Regions from separate parts of the Homo sapiens genome. Here region 1 is linked to region 2. Evidence: fine-mapped expression QTL. A gene starts in region 2. The other region holds a variant in brackets. All regions are shown on one strand. Distances are from middle to middle. Region 1 overlaps CFAP91 (cilia and flagella associated protein 91). Region 2 holds the start of CFAP91 (cilia and flagella associated protein 91).

Region 1 (4,397 bases), 35 kb after region 2:
ATCACATTAATTTATACTCCTATATTTATTCTATATTTCTTTCTACTTTTTTAGGGTTTGTTTCACAGGTCTTACCTTAAATTGCACATGTAGCTCATCAGTTTCAGGCATTCATCTGTTTTATATAAGTATTTTAGGTTAAACATTTCCTTCAAAATACTGACTTTTGGTACATTTCATTAGTTTTGATATGTAGTATTTGTCATTCTTAATTTCTAATATCAAAAAACCCATTATGATTTTTTAATCTGTGAGTATTTAATAGTGTGTTTTAAAATTTCCAAATATGCAGGAATTTTAACTCATTTTCTCATTAACCTCTAACTCAATTGCATTGTGATCAGAGGTCATAGTCTGTGTGATACCTATCCTTTGAAATTTCATGAGGCTTGCTTTGTGGACCAGTATATGATTATACATGTAAAATAATAAAAGTACATCTTCAAATCACACTGTGCCACTTGATGGGTAGAGCAGGCACCTTAGAGCAGATTATTCCCAACTCCTTCTTCCCTTCCCTGTGATATTCCTGTCATTCATTTCACTCGTCCAAGTGCTATATATAATCAGCCAATACTTTTTTACTTTTATTGCTTTAGTTAACAGTTATCTTTTAGATTAAAAATAAGAACAACAATATATTTTATTTATTCCTTCTCTTCTGCTCTTCTTATACTTATATCGATCTAAGTTTTTGATCTATAACATTTTTCTCCTGCCTGAAGAACTTTTTTTTTTTTATAATTTCTTGCAGGGAATGTCTGCTGGCCATGAATTCCTTCAGTTTTTGTTTGCCCCTTTATTTTGGGGAGCGGGGGGAATGTAATTCGCACACAATAAAATCACCCTTTAAAAATATATAATTCAGTAGTTTTTAGCATATTTACAAATCTGTGCAACCATCACCACTATCTAATTCCAGAATATTTTTGTCATCCCCAAAACAAACCCCATGCCTAATAGTGCTCACTTCCAATTCCCCCTTCCCCTCAGCCCCTGGCAACCACTATTCTACTTTCTTTCTATTGTTTTTTTTTTTTTTTTTTTTTGAGTTGGAATCTCACTCTGTTTGTCAGGCTGGAGGGCAGTGGTGCGATCTCCGCTCACTGCAAGCTCTGCCTCCCAGGTTGACGCCATTCTCCTGCCTCAGCCTCCTGAGTAGCTGGGACTACAGGCGCCCACCACCACGCCTGGCTAATTTTTTTTTTTGTATTTTTAGTAGAGACGGGGTTTCACCGTGTTAGCCAGGATGGTCTTGATCTCCTGACCTCGTGATCCACCCTCCTCGGCCTCCCAAAGTGCTGGGATCGCAGGCGTGAGCCACCGCGCCCGGCCTATTCTACTTTCTTTTTATGGATTTGCCTATTCTGGACATTTCATATACATGGAGTCATGCAGTATATGGCCTTTTGCGTCTGGCTTCTTTCACTTAGCATAGTATTTTTAAGGTTCATCCAGGTTTTAACACATCTCAGTACTTCATTCTTTTTTTATGATTGTGTAACATTCCATTGTGTGGATATACCACATTTTATTTATCTACTCATCATTTGATGAATACACCAAGAATATAACCATGTCTAGTCAGTGGTTAACTTTTTTTTTTGTTTTTTGAGATGAAGTTTTGCTCTTGTTGCCCAGGCTGGAGTGCAATGGTGCAATCTCAGCTCACTGCAATTTCTGCCTCCCAGGTTCAG[G/A]TGATTCTCCTGCCTCAGCCTCCCGAGTAGCTGGGATTACAGGCATGCACCACCATGCCCGGCTAATTTTGTATTTTTAGTAGAGATGGGGTTTCTCTATGTTGGTCATCAGGCTGGTCGGTTAATATATTTTTAGGAATATCATAGCACGTCTTGAGAGATACACACATTCTTGTTAGTGTTTCTCAAGCTGACCTAGCATCACCATAGAGAATATTAATATTCTGATTAATATTTATATCTGTGACCTAGATCTGGTAATGAAGGAAAATATAGGGTACAATATACATTATTCAGGTGATGGGTATGCTAAAAGCCTAGATTTCACCATTATGTAATACATTCATGTAAAAAACTGCACTTTTACCTCTTAAATTTATGCAAATTTTTGTTAAAAAAAGAGATTATATTAATTGGCATTATTTCAGGCACTGTTGGATAAGAAGAATAAAGTTCTTGAAGTAAAGAAACCCCCTCGCTTCCTTCAAAGAAACCCAATACCTCAACCTCGGCTTCCAACTCCAACCTTGGAAATGACGTCCAATGTAAGTTGGAAACTTTTTAGTTGAAATGCTAAATTCAATATCATTGTCAGCTTATTCTTAGGATAGTTTAGCTTAAAGCAAATCTAATTTAGCAGTGTTAGTTTCCCAAGCTCTGACTTAAATATTGTCTTTATTCTTATGTATCAAACATCAGACACAGAAAAACAAACGAGATGAAATGAAATCTAAACCCAGTCCTTCTCAAAAATAAAAACACAATTTAAAAAATCTTTCCATGAAAAATCAGCATCAGAAGGTAGTGCTCATGTATATGAAATAGAAAAAGAAGATTGAGTGATGATCAGCTACCATAGCTATCTTCCCACATGGAGAGATGGCTGATGACTGTTGGAGTCGAAGAGGAATGAAATGCCAGAGGTGTCATCAAGACGGACTTGCTTCTGGGGTGGGAATGACTCAAAGAGCCCTGCCCAGGGCCACATCTCACCAGACTCAATTTGAGCAAAGTATCAGAGTTGGTTAGGATTTAGAGGGCTGACTCAGACTAAACAAATCCACAGGAAACTGTTAGAGATGCCATGATGCAAATTTATTACTTTACAGAGAGAACTATAACTGCCTACTGGATCAGGCTGTTCCTCTTGGCTGGTCAGCACATTATCTCTCAGTATGGGACAGTCCTCACAAGAAGCCAGATTGTATTCAGAAGGCTGATGTGTTTCTTGGCTGAGGGCAGGTGTTGGTGGGAGACCATGCTAACACCTGTTACTACCTCTGATGAGTGGCTCCTGCAGAGGGACCAGAAAGCTCCCACCAGCCAGCGGGGATGTGCTGCTGGATAACATTCTCTTTTCTAGACTTTGTGCAGGGCTTTGGTTGACATATTGTCTTTTTTTTTTTTTTTTTTTTTTTTTTTTTTTTTTGAGACAGAATCTCGTTCTGTCACCCAGGCTGAAGTGCAGTGGTGCAACCTTGGCTCACTGCAACCTCTGCCTCCTGGGTTCAAGCGATTCTCCTGCGTCAGCCTTATGAGTAGCTGGAACTACAGGCATGTGTCACCACACCCAGCTAATTTTTATAGTTTTAGTAGAGATGGGGTGTTGCCATGTTGGCCAGGCTTGTCTCAAACTCTTGACCTCAGGTGATCCACCTGCCCTGGCCTCCCAAAGTGCTAGGATTACAGGCATGAGCCACTGTGCCCAGCCTGACAACACATCGTCTTTCATGTGTGTTAATGTCATCGATTAGACTGCTGTTTTCTTTTTACATTCAAAGGAATCTTAATTCGATTTCCAGACCCTGCTTTTTCTGCTTTGGACACAGAGTTTTTAAGATGATTTTTATAGATGGCTAACCTTGTCTCTTATATTCTGATTTTATCAGCATAGCTAAATTCTTGTGAGAAGTACCTTACTCTGACATAGACTAGCTGTATTTGTGTCTACTGATGATCAAACATGAAAAATCCTATTGCAAAATGATGTTATATGCAATACTTGTTGCTTTAAGAAATATTTTGCTGGAAAGGAATATAGGGAAATGAAAGTGGTTTCATTTGTAGGGATAGCATGGCAGGGAGTGAATTTTTTGCTTGTAATATGATTTGTTAATGATGAAAAATAATGAATTCTAATGTAAGTAACATTAAAATACTATATGTTCAATAAGGGCAGGGACCATCTTTTATTTCTCTTTAAATCTTTTTGGCATCTAGCACAGTCTGTTTTGCTTGAAATAAGTCTTCAAAAGAATATTTGATGCTTGGACTACTGCAGTTCTCAAGCTGCTTGGTTCTCCCTTTGTTCTTTTAGGAAGAAGAAGAAATGGAAATGGCTGTGATCTACCTTCAAAAGTTACTCCGGGGCAGAGTCGTTCAGAACATGGTGTGTAGGTCCAACCGCTGGCCCTGCATTTCTCTTTTGAGAATAAATTTTTTAGAATGCATATGTGCTTGGTTCCTTGGAGTGAATCCCTTTTGCACCCTGCTATCCTATTCAGCTAAACTCTTGAGTTGCCTACCCATTTCCTTCTGGTGACCCATTTCCTTCTAATGGCATCATTTGTCCAGGTGGGTGGCACAGTGTCAAGGAGAGAGACAGGGAGGACCTACCTGCTATTTGCCATGGTTGTAACTAAGGCAGTATGAAACTCACTTCTTCCTTGGAATTGTTAAATCCATACATTTTCTCACCTG
Region 2 (4,397 bases):
GTACACAGACAGACCTAGGACATGGCTGGTTTTCAAAAACCCCAAGAAGTTTAGGAGTAGAGACAATAAGTTAAAACCAGGAGTATATGCAGAAAGAGTAGTAGGCCAGGAAGCGTATTCAGGAAGTGTCTGTGGATCACATTGAGGGACTAAGTGGCTAAGTTGGCTGGACTTCCTGGTTCAATAGGGACTTCCCTAAGGGGACTTTCCCCTAAGCCAAAATGAGTCATAGCTGCAAGCTAAGGGATTGAAACTTCAACCAATCAAAGGGGACTTTCCCCTAAGCCAAAGTGAGTCCCAGCTGCAAATTAAGGGATTGAAACTTCAGCCAATCATATAGAGAGTTTAAGCTCTAGCTGCAGCCTGATGTTTTTAACCAATCAGGCCCACCAACCTAAGAGAGGAGACCACCCCTCATATTGTGTTATGCCCAATTTCTGCCTCCAAAGAAAGAAGAATTTAAAACAAAAAGGCAGAAATGAAATCCACAGGCAGACAGCCCAGCACTGTGCTCTGGGCCTGGTAGTTACAGATTGACCCCTGACCTAACCGATATGTTATCTATAGATTCCAGACATTGTATGGAAAAGCATTGTGAAAATCCCTGTCCTATTCTGTTCTGTTCCGATTACCAGTGCATGCAGCTCCCAGTCACATACCCACTACTTGCTCAATCGATCACGACCCACTCACGCAGACCCTCTTAGAGTTGTATGCCCTTAAAAGGGACAGGAATTGCTCACTCCGGGAGCTCGGTTTTCGAAGATGTGAGTCCGCCAATGCTCCCAGCTGAATAAAGCCCTTTCCTTCCATAACTCGGTGTCTGAGCGGTTCTTGTCTGTGGCTCGTCCGGCTACAAACCCACAAGTGGATAGAAAATAACCTAATCCTATGGGACAGAAAAAGGAAAAGGGGAGGAGTCATAAGGGGATATAAACATAAGATACCCAAACCAGAAATGGCAACCCTTCCAGGTTCCCTTCCACCACGTGGAAGCTTTACTTTCGCTTTCCCTTTACTTTTGCTTTGGCTTTAATAAATCTTGCCACCGCACAGTCTTTGGGTCCACGCATTTCTCTAGTGAAGCTGTAACACTTGCCACTGTGGTCCACGGCTTCATTCCTTGAAGCCTGTGAGACCATGAACCCTTCGATCGAGAAAAACCTTTGATCGGAAGAAGACTTCTCGTCTCAACATTAAAGGACAAAGAAGCCAACTCTAAGGCATGCCATTAGCTTTAATAATCTGAGTGTAATAAATAATAATGATCATAACGGATTAAAACATCAGATCTGTAAAAAATGCATGCATTCATAATGATATCAAACAAACAAAAACTTTGTGGTTAACTCTGGAGTTTGGTAGGGCACCAACTCATGTCTCTGAAATTTCATAATTAAAAAGAACAAATCCAGCATTTACCCAGTCTTTCCTCTATGAGATTATCCTGGTTATCTCAGGATAACCAATGAGTTGGTATGAAAAGATTCCTTTTATAGAAGAACCTCTGGTAATAATAGAGAATTATTGAAAGGATTAGAAATTCACTGCTCTAGGATAAAAGACTTAAGAGACATACCAAAATGCAACATGAGGACTTTTTTTGGATCTTGACTGGAACAAACCAACTATAAAAGATAATTTGGACTCAAACAGGAAAATTGGAATTATTTATAGTACTAAGGAATTATTGTTAATTTTGTTAGATATGATAACGGTAGTTAAATTTTTAAAATCTATGTCAGTTTGAGATGCAGACTAATTTAAGGGTAAAATAATATTATGTCTAGGATTTCTTTAAAAAAGAGGGGAAGGAAACTGAAACTTGATTGGCAAAATGTTGCTAAATGTTGATTCTGAGGGATGGGTTACTTGAGGGTTTGTTATTAAAAGTAGAATCACTTTTGCTTATGTTTAAAATTTTCCATTATAAATAGTTTTCAAAAGCAGAGCCAGTGCCTACCCCACATCATCTTCTGTTATTTAATGCCCAGGACTCAGAAAGGGTCAGCAGTCTCAGATCAACAGTTACTGATGTCCTAACCCATCCTAAACACTGATGCTAATGAGTGTGGGGCAAAGTTCACAGCGTGCTAAGGAGCAACATTTAGGAACCTGACTGGATTCCGCAGCTCTCGGGACAAGCCCCCTGGAAAAGGGCTGGGGGGAGGGGCGGGGAGGCACCCAATTATTCTAGAAGGTTCTGAGATCTCCCAGGGATTTCCGAGAGGCTACGAGGTGTAACTGGCAAATCAATGACTTAAGAGTAGCTTTCTCCCAGCCTCCCCGCTGGCTCTGGAGTATAGAGGGAAGCCAGCCTTTTCCTCCCCCATCCTGCCCCTCCCCTCTCTTCTCATCTTCCCCTCCACTCTCCTCCTGACCCTGGCCTGGCCACTCCTGCTTTCACTTCTCTCCACTCCTCTTCGGCCCCGCCCCGCGGCCTCCTCCCTCCTCCTTGCCCCGCCCCCTATCCCTGCGCGCCGGCGGCCGTTACCATAGCGACGTGCACGCAGTAGCCAGGCCTGACCCGCTGGTCCCTTGCTGGCGGGAGGAAAGAGGCGGCACCATGAGCCACGCAGTAACCATCGAGGAGCCCCAGGCCCAGCCGCAGGTGTCTCAAACTCGGTACCGGGAGAGGTCGCGGGCTGGGAGCCACATCTCCTCCAATCGAGCGTATGATTTTCTGTACGGTAAGGACCGCCGCAGACCTTCCTCCGCGTCCGTCGCCTCCTAGGCCAGGTGGGCTCCCAGATGGTGGGACCTGGCCAGGGGCATGGCGAACGAAACACGACCCTCTGGACTGACCTCTTGCCCACGGTTGTCCTTGGTCGGGTGGGGGCAGCTCCGAGCCCTCCAGGTGGCCGCACTCAGGTTGGGGTCGGGGGTTCGGGTACATCGAAAGGCGCGGGTGCGCTCCGCTTCGGGGGGCGATTTTCCTGAAACCTGTTCCGGGCGTTTTGGTACCCAGAAAGTGTGCAACGATTTGTACACTCGGAGATTCACTCAACGTTCCTGCATAAAATGCCCTACAAAAATGATCTTTTCTCTCCAACTCTCTGGGCAAATCCAAGTTGGGCGAAAAGAAGTGCCAGTTTATCCCATGCTTGTTTTTAGGTTTTTTGTTGTTGTTGTTGTTTGTTTTTTTTAACTTCTGCGTCAAAGCATTGCTTATAGACTGGGTCCGCTGGCTCCTCTTGGGCCAATAAAACCCCAGTTTATTTTAACGGCTTGGTTGTCCATTTTATGTTTTCTCTCTCTCCACGCTCCTTGAGTTCCTTAAGTTCCTGTTCTACACATTTTTGTAGCCTTCTGAGCACCTATTCTAGTGCTGATACATATACTAGGCGCTTCAATAAATAAATGTTTATTGAATTTGCCGTGGCAAGAACTGTAACCAGCTATAAGCATGATTTTTTCCAATTTTGCCCTCTGCAATCCCAGGTTTTTCACCTGAACCTTGCATTGCTTTCAGCAATGTGGTGTTGCCTCTGGGAATCCCAGTCTCCTTTGTGTGGGAATCTAGGGTACACATTCCTAGATAGAGGCTGTGTAATGATTGCTGACATATTCTGGCCAGTGTTTTTCTGTATTTACTCTTGGTTTTGTGAAATAAATCAAGTTAGCTCCTGTAAACACATCACCATGTTTTTTTTTCACGGGTAATTTGAGAAGGAGGACAAACATCTCCCCAAAGTATTTATTAAGCTGGTTGTTTCTTTGATGCCGAAGTGTCTCTTTTGCAGAGGAATTGCTAAATGTTTCCATGTCCCTTGCTAAGAACAGAAATTCACTCAGAGTAGATCAAATAAAAGTTTGGATTGTTATAAAACAATCTCGCCGCTAGTCATGGACAGGAAGCGAAGTATAGCCAGGGCGGATGAGAACCTGGATGGGGAAAATCAGAACTAAGATGCTGTGCTCTCCTGCTTTCTTTCTTTGACCTTATGACCTTTCACCTTGTTAGGGTTGCCACATTTAGCAAATAAAAATACAAGAGGCACCGTTAAGCTTGAATTTCAGATAATGAATAATATTTTAGTATAAATTTTTGTCCTGTGCAATATTTTGGAACACATTTATACTAAAAAATTATTCATTGTGTATCTGAATTTAAATTTAACTGGGCATCCTGTATTTTATCTGGCAACTCTAGCCTTCTTTCTATGTATAATCAAGCCCCAAGTAATGATATTTCGGTCAACAGTGGACTACATGTATAAGGATGGTCCCATAAGATTATAATGAAGTTGAAAAACTCCAATTACTTCGTGACATTGTAGCTGTCATAACATTGTAGCCCAATGCATCACTTTTTCTGTGTTTAGATATACAAATACCATTGTGTTACAACTGTCTACAGTATTCAGTACAATAACATGCTGTATGGGTTTGTAGCC

The links. PIP is the estimated chance that this variant, and not a neighbour inherited with it, causes the effect. A credible set is the group of variants that fine-mapping cannot tell apart.
Region 1: its variant is the best candidate, but not a certain one, in a credible set for the expression of CFAP91 in tibial nerve (GTEx, PIP 0.68).

The regions. Positions count from the first base shown.
Region 1 is chr3:119,735,241-119,739,637 of GRCh38, forward strand. CFAP91 (cilia and flagella associated protein 91) reads left to right here. Exons shown (of 18, transcript NM_033364.4): 11 at 2,126-2,242; 12 at 4,015-4,086. Among named protein-coding and RNA genes, the nearest start is that of CFAP91, 34 kb to the left of the region's middle. The variant G/A (reference allele first, on the strand shown) is at 1,698.
Region 2 is chr3:119,700,533-119,704,929 of GRCh38, forward strand. It overlaps CFAP91 (cilia and flagella associated protein 91), which reads left to right and starts at 2,490. Exons shown (of 18, transcript NM_033364.4): 1 at 2,490-2,690. The coding sequence starts at 2,567. It overlaps LOC105374064 (a long non-coding RNA gene), which reads right to left and starts at 2,511. Exons shown (of 3, transcript XR_924391.4): 1 at 1,964-2,511; 2 at 660-889. RefSeq lists enhancers at 1-390, 110-1,309, 1,976-2,655, 2,649-2,698, 2,749-2,808 and a silencer at 2,369-2,538.